2 separate regions of the Homo sapiens genome follow, and region 2 is linked to region 1. A link means that fine-mapping ties the variant in region 1 to the plasma level of a protein whose gene starts in the linked region. Region 1 holds a variant in brackets. A gene starts in the other region. All regions are shown on their forward strands.

Region 1 (8,000 bases):
AAATAAGGAAAAATAAAAAAGAAAAGAAAGAAAGTCCATAAATTGAGACTCCTAGAGATACTAAATGGTAGAATGGGAATTTGAATTTAAATTTATAAGATGTTCACTCTCGGAGATCATAGGTCATTGTTGTCCTCCTCCTTTTCATGACAGGAACTAGCAATGAAGAGCTCTGACTATGTGCTAGGTACTACTCTGAGAACCTAACATTTGTATCTCCTTATTAACTCTATTACTGCCCCATCCTACAGATGAGAAAATTGAGGCACAGGAAGTTTAAGTTGGCCAAGATCACACAGCCAGTAAGGGGCAGACATTGAAAGGTCATTTTGCCTGCCTTATCCCCAGCCTCCAGGCAGTGGCAGAGTTAGCTCATTTTGGACAAACAGCTCTCCCAGACCAGACATTGTAAGCTATACTCAGGAATCATAGGAAAGATTATGATAGAATAATATATAGTTACAAAGAAAAGAAAGAAAATCCAATGGGAGAATATTTACTGTTTTCTATATTAAAGTGTTTAATGTTTATGTTTTTAGAGGAATATTGTTTATTATAGCAATTTAGAAAACAAAATGAGAAAAAAAATCACCAAAGATTCTACCTCCAGTTATTTTTGTGTATTTCCTTCCATTTTTCCCCCCATGTCTGTTTATATAATTGAAACTATTATTCATGCAAAGAGGTATTCTGATTTTCTCAGTTATTTTTATTTATTTTTAATTTTGTAAATAAACTTTTTTCTTCTGAGACAGTCTCGCTGTGTCACCCAGGCTGAAGTGCAGCCGTGCAATCTTGGCTCACTGTGACCTCCCAGTCTCAAGCAATCTTCCTGCCTCAGCCTCCTAAGTAGCTGGGACTGCAGATGTGTGCTACCACATCCAGCTAATTTTTAAAATCTTTTTTCTCTTTTTTGGTAGAAATGGGAGTCTCTCTATGTTGCCCAGCCTGTATTGAACTCCTGGGCTCAAGTGATCCTCCCACCTCAGTCTCCCAAAGTGCTGGGATTTCAGGCATGAGCTACCACACCCAACCTAATTTTTATTTTTATTTTATTAAAAAAAAAAGTTTTTGCCTACCCGCCTCTCACCCTCTCACTCATTTTTAAGTATAGGTTTTTCTACAATGCCACATTGTCTTTTCCATAAAAAGTACTTTCGGCCGGGTGTGGTGGCTCACACCTGTAATCCCAGCACTTTGGGAGACTGAGGCGGGTGGATCACCTGAGGTCAGGAGTTCGAGACCAGCCTGGCCAACATGGTGAAACCCCATCCCTACTAAAAATACAAAAATTAGCTGGATATGATTGTGGGCACCTGTCATCCCAGCTACTCGGGAGGCTGAGGCAGGAGAATCGCTTGAACCTGGGAGGCAGAGGTTGCAGTGAGCCGAGATTGTGCCACTGCATCCCAGCCAGGGCAACAGAGCGAGACTTCATCTCAAAAAAAAAAAAAAAAAAGTACTTTTCTTCATTTGGTTAGTATTCTCTTATGAGTTGATGCCTTGTAATTTATCTGAATGTTTTCCATTATTTTGTGGTGAGCTTTAAAACTACCCTTCCTGACTTTCAAGAATCCTAGACATGCTCCTTCTTGCTAGGTAATTATTAGTTGCACTCATTAGAATAAAGTATATGCTTGGAGTGGGGAGGAGATGAACTTTTTGAAGGGCGGTGAAGTATTTCTCACCACCAGGCCTTTGTCTTTGCTAAACTGAGGAAGGAAGATTTTATTTCATTAGCTAACAAAGAACCTCCTATATAGGCCGGGCATGGTGGCTCACGCCTGTAATCCTCACATTTTCAGAGGCCAAGGTGGGTGGATTGCCTGAGCTCAGGAGTTTGAGACCAGCTTGGGCAACATGGCAAAACCCCATCTCTACTAAAAATACTAAAAATTAGCTGGGCGTGGTGGTGAGTGCCTGTAATCCCAGTTACTCCAGAGGGTGAGGCAGAAAAATTGCTTGAACCCGGGAGGTGGAGGTTGCCATGAGCCGAGATCGTGACAGTGCACTCCAGCCTGGGCGACACAGCAAGACTCTCTCTCAATAAAATAAAATAAAATAAATACATAAATAAATCTCCTATATAACCTCATAATATCAGATTTGGAGCCTTTTCCATAGAAATGAAATTCAGAAGAAGCTGAGACTCAGATATTCCAAGCTGCCTGGTGCTCTGTGAATAGAGGAGACTTGTTCTTGTGAAATCTGAGTGCAAAGACACAGGACAAATTGTTATCTACTTTTCATTCCTAAGGATACTGTATGGCCCTAAAACACAAGAACTAGAATTCTGTGATACCACGGGTACTCCACAGTGTGTTCCTTCCCCTTTCTGAACCTGATTTGACTCATCTCTATGAAAAGATGTGGGCTTTGGGGTCAGATGTGGGTTGGAATCCTAGCGCCTGTGTGGCTGCAATTTTCTTTTGTGTAAAATTGAGATAATAGTACAAAAGTAACAACAGTTAATATTATCAAGTGCTTACTGTGTGCCTGGCACTGTGTTAAATTCTCTAAGTGTATTTTCTCATTTAATTTTTGTGATAGGCTTATGACACTATTAGTATCTTCATATTACAGTGAGGGTTCAGAGAAGTTAAGGTTCCATAACTAGTCAGCAGACCTGGGACTTCACTCCAGGCAGCTGATTCCAAAGCCTATTCTAACTTTAAACTGCTACTTTTTGGAGTGTTGTAAGAAGGACAATTTATATAAAATGTTGGCACATAGTGGGTGCTGCTGTTATATGAATGGGCACAAAATCTGTCTACATTTTGCCTTTTACCAAATTTAGAATCTATTTAGTTAAAACCTTCTTAGGGCGGGTGGGGTGCAGTTGCTCATTCCTGTAATCTCAGCACACTGGGAGGCCAAGGCAGGAGGACTGCTTGAGCCCAGGTGTTTGAGACCAGCCTGGGCACATAGTGAGACCCCCATCTCTCCAAAAAACAAACAAACAAACAAAAACAAAACAAAACTAGCTGGGCGTTGTGGTGCCCCTGTATTCCCAGCTACTCAAGAGGCTGGGGTGGGAGAATGGCTTGAGCCCAGGAGTTCAAGGTTGCAGTGAGCTATGATCACAGTACTGCACTCCAGCTTGGGCAGCCGACTGAGACCCTGTCTCGAAAAAAAAATAAAAATAAAAACTTCTTAGGACAGAGTGATTAGAAGCTGTGTAGTAGATACTTAGTAACAATGTGGGTTCCTCGGGCAGGTTATCCTACGC[G/A]GAGAGCCAGGTACCAATGGGTGCGCTGCAATCCAGACAGTAATTCTGCAAACTGCCTTGAAGAAAAAGGACCAATGTTCGAACTACTTCCAGGTGAATCCAACAAGATCCCCCGTCTGAGGACTGACCTTTTTCCGTAAGTGGACTTTTCTCTAATTAATTAATTAATTACTTATTTATTTGAGACGGAGTTTCACTTTTCTTGCCCAGGCTGGAGTGCAATGGCGCAATCTTAGCTCACTGCAACCTCCGCCTCCTGGGTTCAAGCGATTCTCCTGCTTCAGCCTCTGGAGCAGCTGGGATTTCAGGCGCCTGCCACCATGCCCAGCTAATTTTTTTTTTTTTTTTTGAGACGGAGTCTCAGTCTGTCGCTCAGGCTGGAGTGCAGTGGCGCAATCTCGGCTCACTGCAAGCTCCACCTCCTGGGTTCACGCCATTCTCCCGCCTCAGCCTCCCGAGTAGCTGGGACTACAGGCACCCGCCACCACGCCCGGCTAATTTTTTTGTATTTTTAGTAGAGACGGGGTTTCACCTTATTAGCCAGGATGGTCTCGATCTCCTGACCTAGTGATCCGCCCGCCTTGACCTCCCAAAATGCTGGGATTACAGGCGTGAGCCACTGCGCCTGGCCTAATTTTTTGTATTATTAGTAGAGACGGGCTTTCATCATCTTGGCCAGGCTGGTCTCAAACTCCTGACCTCAGGTGATCCACCCACCTTGGCCTCCCAAAGTGTTGGGATTACAAGCATGAGCCACTGTACCCGGCCTTTTCTCTAATTTTAAAGTGTCTGTAATTTCACAACCTCTTGGCACAGATGTGGGAGTGTTTTTCTTCAAGCTGTCCAGAGTGTTTTGCTTCGAGCTCTTGCTTTGGTAGTTTGGCTCTTACTCTGCAGTACATGGTAAAAGTGTACTGTATATACTGGCATATGACATGTGCGAGTATACATGATTCACCTATGTTTTTGAAATTTTTTTTGTGGATGGTAGAGAGGAGCATTGAGGACTTTTCATCAACAGGTATTGAAAATGATTGAACATTGTTTTATTTGTGTAAACAGAACACACTATATATAAAAATCCAATAATTAACTGAATGGATAAGCAAAATGTGGTATAAGCATACAAAGGAATATTATTGGGTCATAAAAAGAATGAAGTACTGATACATGCTACAACATAGATAAACCTTGGAAACATTATGCAGAGTGAAGGAAGGCCAGACACCAAAAGCCACATATTGTATGATTCCATTTAGATGAAATGTCCAGAATAGGCAAATCCCTAGAGGCAGAAAGTAGATTAGTGGGTTACAGGGGCTGGGGAAAGGGAGGAATAAGGAGTGACTGCTAATGGGTATGAGGGTTTTTTTTGGAGGAGGTGATTAAAATGTTCTTCTGCCAGGTGTGGTGGCTCATGCCTGTAATCCCAGCACTTTGGGAGGCCGAGGCGGGAGGATTGTTTGAGCCCAGGAGTTTGAGGCCAGCCTGGGCAACATAGTGAGACCCTATCTCTATTTCAAATACATTTTTTATATTAAAAAAATGTTCTTCAAGTAGTTGGTAATTATTTTTAAAAATGGCCAGGTGCAGAGGCTCATGCCTGTAATCCCAGCACCTTGGGAGGCTGAGGTGGGAGGATCCCTTGAGCCCAGGAGGTTTGGGACCAGCCTGGGCCATACAGCAAGACCCTGTCTCTACAAAAAATACAAAAATTAGCTAGGCATAGTGATGTGCACCTGTGGTCCCAGCTACTCGGGAGGCTGAGGTAGGAGAATCTCTTGAGCCTATGTTGAGCCTGCAGTGAACCCTATTTATGCCATTGCACTCCAGCCTAGGCAACAGAGTAAGACTCTGTCTCAAAAAAAGAAAAAAAAAATTAGGGAAAGGAAGAATAATTAGCCAAGACTTGTAAAACAAAAATCAAATCTCTTCTTTTGATCACATAAAACTTGCTTTAAACTTGCAAAAAAGACCTGATATAAATTCATAAGTAACAAAAAATTGAATTATATTAGAAACCATTAATTCAATGAATACTAAAGCTATGTAGGATGTAGCAAAATATACATATTAAGAAAAGGATTATCATAAAAGTTTTAATCTCCAGGCTCAAACCTAGAAAATCACTCTCCTCAAAGCCAGGGTTAATCATCATGCTCCAAACCAGGTACATTTCACATCACTTTGGGATCCTGGCAACTTTCTCTTTTGTTTTTTTTTTTTTTTGAGACAGGGTCTCCTCTGTCACCCAGGATGGAGTGCAGTGGTGTGATCATAGCTCACTGCAGCCTCGAACTCCTCAAGTGATCTTCCTGCCTCAGCCTCCCAAGTAGCGGGACCACAGGCACACAGCACCATGCCCATCTAATTAAAAAAATTTTTTTTTGTAGAGACAGGGGTCTCTGTACATTTCCCAGGCTGGTCATGTACTCCTAAACTCAAGCAGTCCTCCCACCTCAGCCTCCCAAAGTGCCGGAATTACAGTCATGAGCCACCATTCCCAGCGCTGGTGACTTTCTCCATCACTGGTGACTTTCTCCATCACTGGTATTCACTGCATTAGTGATGACATCATTACAATCTTCAATATGCAACTTTGTAGTCCTACTCTTGCATTCTTACTTTAAAGCCTCAGCATTAAGTTTGAATGTAATATTACAGCATCCTTCATTACTTTAAATCATTGGTTTCAATAGTAATTCATTTAAATCTAAAATGTTAGGCTGCAGTGGCTCATGCCTGTAATCCCCCCAGTTTGGGAGACTGAGGTGGGAGAATCACTTGAGGCCAAGAATTTGAGACCAGCCTGGGCAACACGGCAAGACCCCATCTCTAAAAATTAGTGGCCCGGCGCTGTGCCTCACGCCTGTAATCCCAACACTTTGGGAGGCCGAGGCGGATAGCTTGAGGTCAGGAGTTCAAGATCAGCCTGGCCAACATGGCGGAAACCCATTTCTACTAAAAATACAAAAATTAGCTGGGCATGGTGGCACGCCTGTAATCCCAGCTATTGAGAGGCCGAGGCAGGCAGACTGGGAGGCCAAGGCAGGCAGATTGCTTTGAGACCTGCCTGGGTAACATGGAGAAATCCTGTCTCTACAGAAAAATACAAAAATTAGCCAAGCATGGAGAAACCTCGTCTCTATAGAAAGACACAAAAACTAGCCATGCATGCCTGTGGTCCAGCTACTCGAAAGGCTGAGGTGGGAGGATTGCTTGATCCTGAGAGGTCAAGGCTGAAGTGAGCCATGGTGTGGCACTGCACTCCAGCCAGGGTGACAGACTAAAACCTTGTCTCAAAATAAATAAACACATTTAAAATAAATAAATACAATTAAAACTAAAATTAAAAAATAAAATAAAATGTTAAGAGAATAGCTCAAATTCTCCAAAAGAACTCTTGCACACCATTCCTCCTCTTCTCAAATCTCTATTTTCCTTCCCCAAAGCCAGTAACTGCTTCTCACCCTGACCCTGTGCTTTCTTTCCCGTCATTGCGAAAGAATGGTCCTTGCTTCTGTGCTGATCCCAAACCCTTTTGCCCTCAGATCCTCCTGTCCTTCCCTGGCCCTGCTCTGTATTGGCTGTGGGGTGGGGGTGGCGGTGGAACTGACCCCTGGCGTCTGCATTTCTCAGGCTCCCAGGGCTGTGGCTGACTTTGGCCAATGGGAGGCAAGGACGGGAGACTGAGAGCTTGGGAGGAAGGGAGAGAGGTATGTTTCTTCTCCTTACTCCCTGCCTGGGATGGCACCTTGGGCAGGACTCTGTTTTGCCCATGGCCTCAGCTCCCACCAGATGCCTCTAGTCCCTGGGCTCAGGAAATAGACAACCTCCTTCCACTATCGCTGTAGCCCAAGGAGGGAAGTATTTTTTTCTTTCTTTCTTTCTTTTTTTTTTTTTTTTTACAGAGTCTCACTCTTGTTGCCCAGGCTGGAGTGCAGTGGTGCGATCTCAGCTCACTGCCACCTCTGCCTCCCGGGTTCAAGTGATTCTCCTGCCTCAGCCTCCAGGGTGTGCCACTATGCCCAGCTAATTTTTGTATTTTTGGTAGAGACGGGGTTTTGCCATGTTGACCAGGCTGGTCTTGAACTTCTGACCCCAAATGATCTGCCTGCCTCGTCCTCCCAAAGTGCTGGGATTACAGGCATGAGCCACTGTGCCTGGCCGAAGGAAATATTTTCTTGCTATTGCTAATCTCTGGGTTACCTCGCTATCCCCCATTTAGCTTCACTTCTCCTCCATCACCTGTATGAGGAATTCCCTCTGTGTTAAATATCTGGAGAAGTTTCCTGATTGGACCCTGGCTGTTGCAGCTTCCAAGGCCACCTCTCTTTGTGGCTGGTATCCTTTTCCCATGCATCTTCTCCAGGACTTCCATTCTGCAGTTATCTCTCTGAACTCAGTGTCTTCTTCCCATCAGTATAGGGGTGGACTTTAGTATCTCCTATGTTTAGGCAACATCTCTCCTTTGACTCTGCGTCTTCTCCAGTGGTTGCCCTTCTCTGCTCCTCTTCACAATAACACCTCCTGAAAGGGCCACCCATGCCTGCCCCCTCCTTTCCTCACCCCCTCTGTGGCTGGACTTCTGTTCCTACACTCCACCCTGGTTGACAAAGTCACTGATTACTTCTCTATTTTCAGCTTACTTGATCCTTAATTGCCTTCAAAAACAGCTAACTGGGCCATGCATGTAATCCCAGCACTTCGGGAGGCCAAGGCAGGAGGATCACTTGAGCCCAGGAGTTCAGGACCAGCCTGCCTGGGCAAC
Region 2 (6,484 bases), not on the chromosome of region 1:
GAGTACAGTGCTGCGATCTCGGCTCACTGCAACCTCTGCCTCCCTGGTTCAAGTGATTCTCTTGCCTCAGCCTCCTGAGTAGCTGCGATTACAGGCGCCCACCACCACGCCTGACTGATTTTGTATTTTTAGTAGAGATTGGGTTTCACCATGTTGGCCAGGCTGGTCTCAAACTCCTGACCTCAGGTGATCCACCCGCCTCGACCTCCCAAAGTGCTAGGATTACAGGCATGAGCCTCCACGCCCGGCCTGAGGGCTCAAGTCTTTTTTTTTCTTTCTTTCTTTTTTTTGAGACGGAGTCTTGGTCTGTAGCCCAGGCTGGAGTGCAGTGGCGCGAACTCGACTCACTGCAAGCTCCACCTCCCGGGTTCACACCATTCTCCTGCCTCAGCCTCCAGAGTAGCTGGGACTACAGGCACCCGCCACCATGTCCAGCTAATTTTTTTGTATTTTTAGTAGAGACGAGGTGTATACCGTGTTAGCCAGGATGGTCTGGATCTCCTGACCTCGTGATCCGCTCGTCTCGGCCTCCCAAAGTGCTGGGATTACAGGCGTGAGCCACCGCGCCCGGCCAAGGGCTCTAGTCTTAACAGTGACCCCACACCCAAATGTCACCCAAGTCCATGCCCCTGACCCAATTATTCCCTAGGCCCAGTATGTCCCCACAGCCCGTTTTTGTTGTTGTTGTTGTTGTTGTTGTTGTTTTTGAGATAGAGTCTTGCTCTGTCGTCCAAGCTGGAATGCAGTGGTGCAATCCAGACTCACTGCACCCTCCACCTCCCAGTTCAAGTGATTCTCGTTCCTTAGCCTCCTGAGTAGCTGAAATTACAGGTGCCTGCCACCATGCCTGCCTATTTTTTGCATTTTTAGTAGAGACAGAGTTTCGGCATGTTAGCCAGGCTGGTCTCAAACTTCTGGCCTCAAGTGATACTCCTGCTGCGGCCTCCCAAAGTGCTGGGATTACATGCATGAGCCACTGTGCTGGCTTCTTACAGCCCTTTTATTGTCCTGAGTGCAGTCCCCAGCTCTTGGGTGCTCTTACTCCCTCCTGCCTGGCCTCCACTGGCTGGCTGAAGGTCCTTGGGGTCTGGCATTGGGGCGGGGGGATCCTCTGACTATTCCCTCTCACTAAGTTCCCTACCCCAGGGCCCCATTGTGCACACTGACCACAGTGATCTGGTTCTGGAGGAGGAAGGGACTCTGGAGACCAAGGTGAGTGTTGAGAGGGGTGGGGCTCCCTTCACTGTTGGGAGAGGCGGGGCTCCCTTCATTGTGTTTCCGTCTCTCTCCCACGCCTGTCCCCTCCTTTTTCCTTCTGTTGTCCTCAGAGTTGGGACTCAGCTCCCCACCCCACTCCTCCTGCCCCCTGGGCCATCTCACTCAGCTCCCAGCCTCAGTTTGCCTGTCTGCAGACTCTTCCCACACATCTGTCCCAGCCCTAGCCTCCATCTGGAGCCCCAGACCAGGGCTCACCCTGCCTGTGCTCTCCTCATCACGGTCAAGCCCCCTTTCAGCCACCAGGTCCTACACTGGCCCCACATCTCCCCAGACTGGTTCTTCCTCTGGGGTCCTACCTCAGGACAGCCACATTGACTCCAGGCCATCCCCAGGCCAGAGCACTTCTCTCTCTCTCTCTCTCCTGCGTACCTAGCACATGCCATTCTCTCTCTTCTTTTTTTTTTTTTTTTTTTTGAGACGGAGTCTCATTCTGTTGCCCAGGCTGGAGTGCAGTGGTGCAATCTCAGCTCACTGCAACCTCTGCCTCCTGGGTTCAAGCCATTCTCCTGCCTCAGGCTCCCTAATAGCTGGCTAATTTTTCTTGTATTTTTAGTAGAGATGGAGTTTCACCATGTTGGCCAGGCTGATCTGGAACTCCTGACCTCAAGTGATCCGCTCGCCCCAGCCTCCCAAAGTGCTGGGATTACAGGCGTGAGCCACTGTGCCCAGCCGACATGCCATTCTCTTGGCCTGAAACACTCCTACCTTCCTTCCCATGTCTACCTAATTCCTTCCTTTAGTCCTCCAGTCTCAGCTCAGACATTTCTTGTTCTAGGAAGCCCATGCTTCCGTCATGACAGCTCGATCATTTTGCCTGTGTTCCACCCATCACAGCCATGACCACTCTGATCTGGGCTTCCTTATCCCACCCACTATGCTGAGGGCTCTACCATCACAGCCCCTGTCATTGCCTATGCCTTTCCCAGGCACAGCCCTGACCCCTCTGGGTACTGTCTCATGATCTGTCATTTTTCCTTTGGTGTGGGATTCTGTGAGGACAGGGTCCAGTTCTATCCTAGTGACATGCCTTGTAGCAGCAACACAGGGTGTGACACTGAATCAAAGCCTAGAGGCTGTTGGGCAGGTGAGTGTCTCTCTCCTGTTCCCTCTGCACCTTCCACACCGACACCCCTCAGCAGGCCTATATCCCTCCGTCTCTACCTTTCTCTGCCTATGTCCTATCCATTTGCCTCTTATCACTGTTCCTCTGTCTCACTTTCTCTCTCTCCCAGTCCATGTGTGTCTCTGTGTCTCTGCCCACTCCTGTCTCTTTTTGTCTCTCTCAAGGTCTGGTCTATTTCAGTGTGTCTCTCCATCAGTGACCCTCATCCCCCCTGCACGCTCACAGACTTTACTGAGTCCCATTTGTCCCCTCAGGACCCAACCAACGGTTACTACAAGGTCCGAGGAGTCAGTGTGAGCCTGAGCCTTGGCGAAGCCCCTGGAGGAGGTCTCTTCCTGCCACCACCCTCCCCCCTTGGGCCCCCAGGGACCCCTACCTTCTATGACTTCAACCCACACCTGGGCATGGTCCCCCCCTGCAGACTTTACAGAGCCAGGGCAGGCTATCTCACCACACCCCACCCTCGAGCTTTCACCAGCTACATCAAACCCACATCCTTTGGGCCCCCAGATCTGGCCCCCGGGACTCCCCCCTTCCCATATGCTGCCTTCCCCACACCTAGCCACCCGCGTCTCCAGACTCACGTGTGACATCTTTCCAATGGAAGAGTCCTGGGATCTCCAACTTGCCATAATGGATTGTTCTGATTTCTGAGGAGCCAGGACAAGTTGGCGACCTTACTCCTCCAAAACTGAACACAAGGGGAGGGAAAGATCATTACATTTGTCAGGAGCATTTGTATACAGTCAGCTCAGCCAAAGGAGATGCCCCAAGTGGGAGCAACATGGCCACCCAATATGCCCACCTATTCCCCGGTGTAAAAGAGATTCAAGATGGCAGGTAGGCCCTTTGAGGAGAGATGGGGACAGGGCAGTGGGTGTTGGGAGTTTGGGGCCGGGATGGAAGTTGTTTCTAGCCACTGAAAGAAGATATTTCAAGATGACCATCTGCATTGAGAGGAAAGGTAGCATAGGATAGATGAAGATGAAGAGCATACCAGGCCCCACCCTGGCTCTCCCTGAGGGGAACTTTGCTCGGCCAATGGAAATGCAGCCAAGATGGCCATATACTCCCTAGGAACCCAAGATGGCCACCATCTTGATTTTACTTTCCTTAAAGACTCAGAAAGACTTGGACCCAAGGAGTGGGGATACAGTGAGAATTACCACTGTTGGGGCAAAATATTGGGATAAAAATATTTATGTTTAATAATAAAAAAAAGTCAAAGAGGCAAGTGTGTCTTAGGGAGTCTACTGGCATTATCACTCTCCACCAAGGAAGGGGTCCCTTAGACCTGTCCCAAGGTCCCTCCTCTACCCTAGCCTATGAGGTGGCTGTAGGAGTAAAACTGTGAGCCACCTCTCAGCCTCTTGCTACCTGCAAAGCACTCTAGGCTCTTTTTTTTTTTTTCTTGAGACAAGATCTGGCTCTATGGCCCACATTGGAGTGCAGTGGCATGATCTCAGCCCACTGCTACCTCTGCATCCTGGGCTCAAGCCATCCTTCCACCTCAGCCTCCCAAGTAGCTGGGACTACAGGTGCATGCCACCACACCCAGCTAATTTTTGTATTTGTTTGTAGACAGGGTTTCACCATGTTGGCCAGGCTGGTCTCAAACTCCTGACCTCAAGTGATCCGCCCACCTAGGCCTCCCAATGTGCTGGGATTACAGGCATGAGCCACTGTGCCCAGCCATGGGCTCTTTTAATATACATCTTCACACACACACACACACACACACACACGCACACACACACATGAGTTGCAAACAGAAAAGACACACACATAGGCATGTATGCACAGACACACGCATAGATGTCCACACAGTTGCACACAAGTGACAGGGCTGCCCCAGGGGTCCTGGGGAAGACTGAATTCTAACTCTCATTAGAGGAGACAAACAAGTGAGCCCTGAAGTGGAGCAGGGAAGGGGAGACTATGGGTAGGAAAATGGCAATCCCCTGGTCCTTACAGCAAGCGTGGAGATCCAGACCCTAATCCTGAGGTGCTGCATCCACAGTGGGCATGGTGCTGGTGCCTGCTTGGATGATCCTTAAAGAAAGGTCCTGGGGGCTTTGGTTCATGGATCCTTGAGCTAGGAGTTAAAGGTCCAGGCCCCTGGGACCCTTGGGAAGCAGAGCAAGAAGAGTGAACTCCTGGGTCTGAAGGAGAATGGGCTGGGGGCTTGGTCTCTGGTCCTGAGAGAGAAGGTGCCCAGACTTCTGGATCTGAAAGAGGAAGGGACTAGGTCTCAACTGCTGCCTTCTTGACTGGGGACATTTTGGAGGCCTGTATTCCTGAGCCCTCAACAGAGGAATGTACTAGGGGATGGGGGTCTCTGATGCTTGCATCCTTGGAAAAGGACAAAACTGTGAGTGTCTGGGTCTAAAGAGGGTGAGAGTCCTGCGGGAGGACTCAAAATCCACAACGGGCGGAGCCCATAGCCGGACTCCTGGCTGGGCCCTTCATGGGGCGGGACGCCTGGAATCTCGAGGGGCGGGGGCCTGGCGCAGGCTCCCGCCCGGGGTTCCCGAGCTGCTCCACTCTGCGCGAAGCCGCCACGCTATTGTCCTGACCAGGAAGGCGGGGCCGGCGCGGGGCGGGGCTGGCGGCGCCGGCGCAGCCCGGGGGCGGCGGGAGGAGGAGGTGGCGGCGGTGGCGCTGGGAGCTCCTGTCACCGCTGGGGCCGGGCCGGGCGGGAGTGCAGGGGACGTGAGGGCGCAAGGGCCGGGACATGGGGCCCGCCAGCCCCGCTGCTCGCGGTCTAAGTCGCCGCCCGGGCCAGCCGCCGCTGCCGCTGCTGCTGCCACTATTGCTGCTGCTTCTGCGCGCGCAGCCCGCCATCGGGAGCCTGGCCGGTGGGAGCCCCGGCGCGGCCGAGGTGAGGCCGGGCCGGGTCCTGGGGGATGGGGGAAGGGGCGGGACCGGGTCTCTGGACGCCGGCGCGGACATGTCCAGGGCAGAAAGCGCGGTCTTTCCAGCCAGGTGGTCAGCCCCCAGGCGCCCCCAATCACATTTATGAACCCAGGGTTCCAGGCCCCAGCTCCCCCATCATGCGACGTCCCAGCCCCCTCCCATCTCGAGCATAGGAACTGGTCTATTCAGAGCCCCTGGTCCCAGAAGTCCAGCCCCCTCTCCAGACCCAGGTGACTCGGCCCCAACCCCCTCCCGCCTGGACATAGGACCCACCAAGCAGCGAGGCATTTAGATCCAATAATCCAGACCCCTTGTATTCTCTGGACCCATATGGAGGCCCTTGCAGCCTCCCAGGACCCAGGAGTCCAGTCCTTCAGTCACCACCCACCCCAACCAGATGTAGCTCTCCAGTCCTCAAGGACCTGGTGTCCAGGACTGTAGGCCCCTGAAGCCAGGCCTTGTCAGCTTTGCATCCTGCAACGGGAGCCTGAGCAAGGGATGGAGGGAGGAGGGGCCAGAACTCCTGGGTTCTGGCCTCCTCCTCCGCGATTCAGGTTTAACCCCTTCGGGCTCCAGAGCGGCTGCGCTGGGGTGGGGGCGGAGTCTGTCTCCGCGGCAACAAGGCAGAAAGAATCCCGGGGGACCCAGGTCGCCATAGCAACGGGAGCGCTGGGGCGCCCCCGCCCTACGGGAGCTGTTTCCCAGGGAACGGTGCCTCCATGGAGGCGGTGTGCGGTGCTTGGGGGAGGGGGCTGGTGCTGGGGGTCTCGGTCCTAGGGAGCAAAGAACCAGGGGACCCTCATGCCAACGCCCCCCGAGCCCTCACTGTCCTTTCCACTTCCATCCAGGCCCCGGGGTCGGCCCAGGTGGCTGGACTATGCGGGCGCCTAACCCTTCACCGGGACCTGCGCACCGGCCGCTGGGAACCAGACCCACAGCGCTCTCGACGCTGTCTCCGGGACCCGCAGCGCGTGCTGGAGTACTGCAGACAGGTGGGCGGGGCCGAACGGGAGAGGCGGGGCCGCCCATAGAAAGCTAGACTTGAAAAAGGCGTGGTCCAGGGTGCTGCGCGATCTAAGGCGTGGAGGCTGGGGGGCGTGGCCAATAAAGAGGCGCAACTATGCTAGGGGCAGGGGACCTGTTTTGAGATACTAAGTCAGGAAAAGG

Direction of the effects. Positions count from the first base shown, and alleles are read on the strand shown. Strength reflects both the effect of a copy and how common the allele is.
With allele G in place of A in region 1, the plasma level of the protein whose gene starts at base 5,073 in region 2 is higher (moderate association).

Evidence for each region. PIP is the posterior inclusion probability: the model's chance that the variant is causal. The UK Biobank Pharma Proteomics Project read protein levels with antibody pairs (Olink). The fine-mapping took linkage between variants from a reference panel, not from the people measured, so its PIPs are less certain.
Region 2: it holds the start of APLP1, and the variant in region 1 is fine-mapped to the plasma level of the APLP1 protein (UK Biobank, PIP above 0.99).

What each region holds. Positions count from the first base shown.
Region 1 is chr10:69,093,867-69,101,866 of GRCh38, forward strand. SRGN (serglycin) reads left to right here. Exons shown (of 3, transcript NM_002727.4): 2 at 3,218-3,365. Among named protein-coding and RNA genes, the nearest start is that of SRGN, 9.8 kb to the left of the region's middle. The variant G/A (reference allele first, on the strand shown) is at 3,230.
Region 2 is chr19:35,863,502-35,869,985 of GRCh38, forward strand. It overlaps APLP1 (amyloid beta precursor like protein 1), which reads left to right and starts at 5,073. Exons shown (of 17, transcript NM_001024807.3): 1 at 5,073-5,282; 2 at 6,166-6,309. The coding sequence starts at 5,136. KIRREL2 (kirre like nephrin family adhesion molecule 2) reads left to right here. Exons shown (of 15, transcript NM_199180.4): 14 at 1,147-1,212; 15 at 2,656-3,635. The coding sequence ends at 2,991. It overlaps LOC107985317 (a long non-coding RNA gene), which reads right to left and starts at 5,856. Exons shown (of 4, transcript XR_001753932.2): 1 at 5,591-5,856; 2 at 4,374-4,629; 3 at 2,986-3,092. RefSeq lists silencers at 4,894-5,153, 5,244-5,313.